Linked DNA regions of Homo sapiens: region 2 is linked to region 1. The links come from fine-mapping of genetic effects on gene expression. Tissue or cell type: tibial artery. Region 1 holds a variant in brackets; the other region holds the start of a gene. All regions are shown on one strand. Distances are from middle to middle.

Region 1 (4,415 bases):
AGTACTTGCTAATAAGTCAGATGCCGGATATTAAAAAAGGAGAATAGGTAAGGTAACTCTAAACTTTGGGGTATGAAGAATTGGAAAAATTAAGGTACCATTTAGTGAAATCTGTATCAGTTACCATATTTGCTGAATAACAAATTACCCCAGAACTTAGTGGCTTAAAAGTGATTTATTCATTCACAATTTTGTGGTTGATAATTTCACTTAGGTTCAGCGAGACATCTCCTCTGTTGCTCTCACTTAGACTCACTTATTGGCTATAGTCAGTTGACAGCTTGGACAGGACTGGATGGTATAAGATGGCCTTATTGACATATCTGGTGGTTGGCAGAGTGTGGCTGGATCACCTTGGTCCTCCCCATGTGGTCTTTCCAGCAGGGTAGCTTAGGCTTATTCACAGGGCAGCAGCTTTCTAAGACAGCGAGAGTGGAAGCTGCAGGGCCTCCTGGGGTCTATCTTCAGAAGTTGCACAAGGCCACTTCTGCCACATTTTATTAATCAAAACAAGTCACAAGGCCAGTCTAGATTTAAGGAGTAAGAAAATGGACTCCATCTTATTGTGTTTTTTTAATTTTTTTTTTTTTTTTTTTTTGAGACGGAGTCACACACTGTCGCCTGGGCTAGAGAGAGCGCAGTGGCACGATCTTGGCTCACGGCAACCTTCCCCTCCCAAATTCAAGTGATTCTTCTGCCTCAGCCTCCCAAGTAGCTGGGATTACAGGCACCCGCCATCACGCCCAGCTAATTTTTTGTATTTTTAGCAGAGACGGGGTTTCACTATGTTGGCCAGGCTGGTCTGGAACTCCTGACCTCGTGATCCACCCGCCTCAGCCTCCCAAAGTGCTGGGATTATAGGCGTGAGCCACCACACCCAGCCAATGGACTCCAACTCTTGACGTAAGGAGCTGCAAATAACTTGTGGCCATTTTTATTCTTCCATACATGGGAATGACAGAAAGTGTAGTCTACTTGTTCCAAGAGTTTCGTTTGTAGAAAAAAAAAATGTGCTTTGCTGGAAAATGGTGCATTGGTTAGAGCACACTCTTCCAGGTTCTCTAATTCTGATTCTATGGGGGCTATTTTACAACTTCGTCTCTTATACATAAATGATGACAATGCAAAAAATTGTTCTTGTCTGTGGATATGGAAACAAATTCTGTCCCTTAGAGGATCTATTGACTTTCTTCTCTCACTGCAGAAGAAGCCATTTTTGCCTCTATTTGCACATTTATTAAATGTCTATTAAAAGAAGACCTACAAATGCCCAATAGGTATATGATAAAAAATGCTCAATATTACTAAGCATCATGGAAATGCAAACTAAAACCACAATGAGATATCACCTCACCCCAGAATGGCTATTATCAAAAAAACTAAAGATAGCAAGTGTTGGCGAGGATGTAGGTCAAAGAAAACGCTTGTACACTGTTGGTTGGAATATAAATGAGTACAGCCATTATGAAAAACAGTATGGAGATGCCTCAAAAATTAACATTTAGAACTATTATATGATACAGCAATCCCACTACTGGGTATTTATCCAAAGGAAATGATATCAGTATGTCAAAAAGATATCTGCATTCCCATGTTGATTGCCGCACTATTCACAATAGCCAAGATATGGAATCAACCTACATGTCCATCAATAAATGGAGACCTAAAGAAAATGTGGTACATATACACAATGAAGTACTATTCAGCCATAAGAATGAAATCCTGCGATTTGCAACACTATGGATATTAAGTGTCCTTAATACAGACAAATAGCTCACCATCTCACTCATGTGGAATCTGAAAAAGTTGATCTCATGGAAGTAGAGAGTAGAACAGTAGTTTACCAGAGGCTGAATGACTATGGGGAGAAAGGGGAATAAGGAGATGTTGATCAAAGGATACATAATTACAGTTAGACAGGAGAAATAAATTTAAGAGATCTATTGTTCAGCCAGGTGACTATAGTTAAGGATGATATGTTGTATTCTTGAAAAA[C/T]GTAAACAGAGCAGTTGTTACATGCTCTCACCACAAAAATGGTATGCTGGATGGATGTGAGGTAATGCAATTGTTAACTATGTGAGGTAACGCAGTTGTTAGATTTAACCATTCCACAATGTATGCATGCTTCAAAACATCATGTTGTACATGTTTAAAAAATACGATGTCATCTGTCAATTTTTAAAAAAATTAGTTTTAAAAGTTAAAAAAATTCCTAATCCCTATATATGTCTCTGTTCATATTATTTTTCCCCTTAACATCTTTTTTTCCTTAACTTTTTTTGCCTTCCTCTTTCCTTTTTCTTTTATTTTTAAATTTATTTTTGATTGTGGTAAAATATACATAAAATTTACCATCTTAATCATTTTTAAGTACATATATAGCTCAGTAGTGTTAAGTACATGGCACACTGTTATGCAACCATCACTACCATCCCTTTCCAGAACTCTTTTCATCCTGCAAAATGGAAACACTGTACTCATTAAACAATAACTCCCCATTCCCCTGTAGGTTACCTATAGCTCCTGGTAACCACCATTCTACTATCTCTCTATGAAGTTCACTACCCTAAGTACCTCACAGAGATGAAATCATACAGTATTTGGCTTTTCGTGAATGGCTTACTTCACTGAGCAAAATGGCCTCAAGATTCATCCACAATGAAGCATATGTCAGAATTGCCTTCTTTTTCAAGGCTGAATAATATTCCATTGTGTGTATATACACCATATTTTGTTTATTCATTCATCAGTGGACACTTCTACGTTTTGACTATTGTGAATAATACTGCTATGAACACAGGTATACAAATATCTCTTAAAGACCCTGCTTTTAATTTTTAATTCTTTTGAGTATATGGCCTGAAGTAGAATTGCTGAATGATACAATAATTCTACTTTAATTTTTTGAGGAATCACTATACTGTTTTTCATAACAGTTGCACCATTTTACATCCCACCAACAGCACACAAGTATTCCAATTGCTCCACATCCTCACCAACACTTCTTATTTTCTGGTTTGTTTGTTTTGATAGTGACCATACTAATGAGTGTGATGTGGTTGGATTCTTCTATGACTGCTTGTAATATCTTCCTGATCCTCCCATAATAATATGTTAAATAAAATGTTTAACATTTGCTCTTTTATAGCTGTAGAAGAGCCATACCTTTGTCTTTTTTGAAAATTCTCTTTTAACAAGCTATAAAGTAGAACAAGTGGTCTGGAGTGGGTTTTCCAAACACGAAATATACTACAGCATGTTTGTTTTCTAATAGATAGGATGCAATAAAGAAGGAAAATTTATGATAGAAGGGGCAAAAGCAGGAACAAAGTTCTTGAAAAAAGAAAGAGGATTAGATCAAGATAGACAGAATTATATATAATTCATTTATTGTAACCGGAAGAAAATTAGAATATTCATGTAAAAATGCAGGTAGATCCCTTGACTTGGTTATAGAAGCATGTGGAAGGTATCTTCTGAATTTCTGTGTTCATTTTTTAATCCTTATGACTTAGCCCAAAACTAGTTCATAGTAGCTACTTAATGAATGTTTCTTGAGTGAATATAGCAGAGATAATCCTAGTCTACAAGAAAGAGCACAGTAATAAAGACCCACCATGTCTAACATATAAATACACTTACCATTCACCTAGTTCCACTGATAGCCTTTATTAACAGATTCTTAAAATGCTTTTAAACTGCCCATGTAAATAATTTTAAAAGCATACTCTGCTGAATTACCCTATTCTACCCCTCTTAGCAATCAAAGGTAAAAAGAATCTTGTAGCAATGTTGATCTGTCTGCAACATGACACCTCTTTGACTGATAGAAAACAGACAAACTAATGAGAGGAAGCTAAATACGGATATTGTTTACTGGGCTCTGATGACTTATTGTTGGCAAGCAAGTGAACTCTATCTAAGAGATAGGGAATAAAGAAAACATTGTGCTTGGTCTTAGATAAATAAAATATGGGGAAATATGATTTAAAACAAAAAAACAAATTTAACTGACTCATAATTACATCTCAGGAGTCCTTATAGAGGAGCTTAGGATATCTCTTTAGACTTTAAATACATAAAAAGCAGCCCTGGGATAAGCACTGTTTGACAGTTGAATGACAATCTCATCGTAGAGGAGAAGATAGCTGTGTGTTCATTAGCATAAACAACACATTCCAGGCTTCCAAACTACGTAACTTCCCACAAGGAGCATCTGACCCAGAAGACCCTAACACTGAGTGAGCCAGTAGGCATCTGAGAATGAAATTAAAACTTATACAGATGCCAAAGAGGTAAAACGACAAAGCTCAGAAATTTCTCCTTCAATTTAGTTCAATTCAACAAATATTATTTGAATACCTTACACTGAAAAAACACTGCAACAGAAAGTAGGTGCAGAAAACTAGAAAATG
Region 2 (4,415 bases), 130 kb before region 1:
GCTGAACTGTAATACTTAAAATTCAAGTTTGTCTATGAGATAGTGGTGATTGCTTGGAACTGGTAATAGTGGTTACTCTAAGCAAGGACTTTAAACAAAACAAAAGCTTTATGAGAAATTTCTGGCTTATATCTTTCAAATAGATTATTAATTAATAATACTGGAAGGTTTTAATAAAATCATGCTAATGTCCTTCTCAGCAACAGTGTTATTATAGCATCAACTTATAACCAAAGCAATATATATTAGAAGTGACCAGCTAAAATCAGAAATGTGAATTATGGGAATATATGAAATTGCAACAATAAGTTATTAGAGGTATGATTAATGAAGCATCCGCCATGTGGCAAGTCTCACCCCAGAGCCACTGAGCCCTTCTGAGTTCATCAGTTTGGTTACCAATTATTTCCCAATATCCATTAATGGCAGGCACTAATTTTATTTTTCTCTATAGTATTCTTAAAGTACTCTTAAGGATAAAGTAGAATGGAAGTGAATCATTTGTTCCTGCTGTAATGACTGGCCAACTCAAAACATTAAATGCCAGCTCTGAGTGTTATGATGAATGCCACCTTAAATACATAAAATGAAAAAATTATGTTGACATAATAGATGAAGTCATAATTTGCAGAATTTTAGTAAAATTGGAATTCTAGGATTACATATGCATATGATTAGTTGTTCATTCATTTATTAATTTATTCACTCAATCACCTGTATACCAAATATGTATTAAGTATCTGTTATGTGCCAGGAACCTGTTCCAGGTTCAGAGAATACAGTGAATAAACAGACTGAACCCTGCTCTCAATGAACATCTTCATGTTACTTGATATGAGTTCATTCCTTGAAGTAAGAAAAATTCATTATGAATTGCCTGTTTTAAAGACAGGGCATGTGTACTTTGAAAGATTTAGATAGAGATTGGTTTGTGACATATAGTTTCTCTCTTTCCCAAATATATTTAAAATATTTATTGTCTCTCTTTGACAAAAAAATGAAATCATGGCTCTCTGTTGAAGGCCAAGGAAAAGGATCCATAATATATTTACATTTCCATCCTTGAAAAAGAATTCTAATCACAACAGAAGACTTTTTTTAAATAAGCATTTTAAAGAAATTATAATTTCAAATTTGAAATCTGTCAGCCAAACACTTAATTCATCAGTCATCTGCATATTTCAAGACTCAGTAATCTCCAGATGTGTCTCAATTATACCAATAAAATAAGACTAAGTACATGTCAACCCATGTTTTACAACTTGCATAGCTTACTTCTAATGCCTTTGTTCTGCTTACATATTGTGAGGAAGTGTTTATCTTTTTGCATATTTCTGAGTGATAGCATATAAAGACATACAGTATTTAGGATTTTTACAACTTTTTTACTTACTCATGAAACATTATCACTCATAAATGCAAAAGGCATGCATAATGATAAGGAAACCTCTGTGGTTTTCTTTAAATTCAGAAAGAACTTCATTAAAATTCCCACAATTTTATGACTGTTGCAGTCTAGGCCACATAATTTATTTTTATTTTGTGACTTGCTACAAATAAATTCTTGCTTAGTCCCAGACTTCTCTTAGCTTGATAAAATTTAAGAGCCTCTTTTAAATTTGGATACATTTTGACATCTTCAGTGGGTTTTATATGTACTCAAGTTGTTCTTTCCCTACACAGTTTTCTCGTATTATCGAATAAGCTAAGGAAAAACTGATGTTATTACTATGTTTGGTGAATTTTCAAATTTAGTATTAAATGTGTGCTCTTTTGTAAAAATCTGCTTGTAATTCATGTGTTGAAATGTTTCTTCACCCAACATGGCACATGTATACATATGTAACTAACCTGCATGTTACGCACATGTACCCTAAAACTTAAAGTATAATAAAAATAAATAAATAAATAAAAAGAAATGTTTCTTCATCTTTTACTCTAATTTAATCCACCAATTGATCAATCATTAATTCAACATTTATCTAGCCCCTACTGTGTTCGACACACTACTCTGGTTGCAAAAAATATAAGTGAAGAAAATGAACGAAAATTCCTGCCCTCATAGCACTGTAATGCCCTCTCAATAGTAAACATTTTTTTTTAGAAATGCAACCTTCTAACCACAAAATTTAATTGTGCTCCACTGTCTTCAACCTCTCTTAAAGTTTCAATTATTTATAAGCATAGTTTTTCCAAAAAATAGATTTCAAAATCACAATAACATAAAGCACGTTTCACATCTCTCTTGTTTCCTAAATTTTTCCAGGGCTTACTTTCCAGTTAGAAACACCTTGTGTTATAAATGTCTCTTCTTGTATCTAAAATTTTTGGTAAAACAATTGGCACAAACAACAGAATGCTCGATAGTTTTACCATTGAAAATATGAATACGAATAATTTTTAAAATTTAGTAGTATACTTTAAAATTTCATACGTTGAGAAAATGTAGAAATTGTGGCAGAGGTTGATAGTAGTCCTCCAATGGATATTTTCTCCTTTCTTTGTAATTCAACCTTGCCCTTGTTGGGTTCTTTTTCGTTTCTGCCAGCTAGAACATCAATAAGATGCTGGAGTTTAATCAACCACAGCAGACTGTGAGGTGGAAGCCACTTGGTGATTGTGAGCCAGCACCAAGATCGAAGGCATTTGGATCCCTGGTGATCACAGACCCAGCATGTCATCTCTGCAAAGGTGACATTAGATTCTATTTGAAGAAGAAGACATCCATATTGTTTAAGACGTTGTTATTTGGAGTTTTCTGTCAGTAGCAGGCAAACCTAATTCTAACTAACATAGCCTACAACTTACTTTCACAAATTTAACAATCTATGCTACATCCTGTATAATTCTTACCATCTTGATTATTTACTGAAGATGATGAAATGTTCAGTTATGTCACATGCCTATTATTGGCAACAGCATGATTCACCAACTCTTGGAGATTTTCCTGAAAAATAAAAACACTAGTGTTTGTTATGACCTTATTTGTATATAATCACAGATATATAGAAGTAAACCAAATCAATCTTGAACAAAATAGCGAATAACTGGTGATAATAAAAATATCTATATGGAGAGAGACACAGCTAAAAAGGTAAGAGGAAGCCCCACCAATACCAGCTAAGCACGGGGAAGGCAATGCTGGAGTATTTAATTGAGTCATTTCAAGTTGTGTATATGACTTTTACTTGCTTTTATCAAATACAATGTTTATTTCATTTAACCACAGTAAAACGAAAACTGTGACTTGTGTTTCACAGTGAGTATAACTGATTTAATGGAATTGTTGCAGTTCTATCACTTTTCTGAGTTAAAGTTTGCCTCCCCTAACTATTCTGGAAAATAAAAATTCACATATTCTCTGTTCTTTTTTTCCTTCCTCTACTTAATTCTATCTTATGCATGACATTTTACAGAAGGCTCATCTTCATTTTCTAATCAAGATGGCATATATTAAAAATCAGATCCATCATGTGTCATGCAACTATCATACGACACTGATTATTTTTCCAAATTCCAATGATTTACAACTGCCGTTTAATTGCCTGAGAGCATTTTAATCCAGGGTAGTTAACATTACTTGAACTGCTACATCATTTAATTGTAACATTATAGGTTTACAAGCAAAAGCAAGCCTTGAACTAGAGACAGCAAGTCTACGAAAAAAAAAAATCCAAGAGAAACCATCAAGTTTTAAAAGTTGATGTCAGAAATATCTCATTTAGTTCAAATAAACTACTGCGAAATAACACACTTTAAAACATGTAAATAAAGAGCTAAGTACCTAAAAGTAAAAAATAATATCTAGATGAAAGAGATAATTTATGTGTTGGATAGTGAGACTGGGCGTAAAAAGTCTGGTTCCCAAACATTTATGAAATATTTACACCATTCCTCAGGAAATAGCTAGAATATAAACAAAGTACCCTTCCTAGAAGAGCTTCAAAAATCATTTTTATAGTGGCAATTAATTTAATTCCTGAAACTCTGAGGAAATTACAAATCTATTGTGAATGTTTATGGTACTTGATAAATCAAGACCAGAAATGTTATCATCATTAACAATCATCAATAATTACAAAACTATTCAAGAGAGTCACATAAGAAAAAAATACTTTTAGCTGAGATGCAACTGAGCAAAAGTATGTTTCAAATTGTTTTTTAGCATGATACACAGAAGTCCAAGTTACATTTTAAAATTTTTGATTCTACTACACACAATTTTAATAGATTTTAATACATTACTAAACCAGAATAGCAAATGCTATACCCTGGTATCACACCAGCTAAAAAAAAATATGATCAGAAATTCACTTATTTCATAAATATAAAAGTGTGAAAATTTATGGACTTTCTTTTTTTATAATTTTAAGTAAGTTTTAAAAATGTTAGCATCTCTGTGTTCCCCACTGCAG

The links. PIP is the estimated chance that this variant, and not a neighbour inherited with it, causes the effect.
Region 2: LINC02468 starts here. The variant in region 1 is the best candidate, but not a certain one, in a credible set for the expression of LINC02468 in tibial artery (GTEx, PIP 0.64).

Annotation. Positions count from the first base shown.
Region 1 is chr12:20,000,159-20,004,573 of GRCh38, reverse strand. No RefSeq gene overlaps it. Among named protein-coding and RNA genes, the nearest start is that of LINC02398, 12 kb to the left of the region's middle. The variant C/T (reference allele first, on the strand shown) is at 1,996.
Region 2 is chr12:20,126,092-20,130,506 of GRCh38, reverse strand. It overlaps LINC02468 (long intergenic non-protein coding RNA 2468), which reads left to right and starts at 2,606. Exons shown (of 4, transcript NR_146523.1): 1 at 2,606-2,691.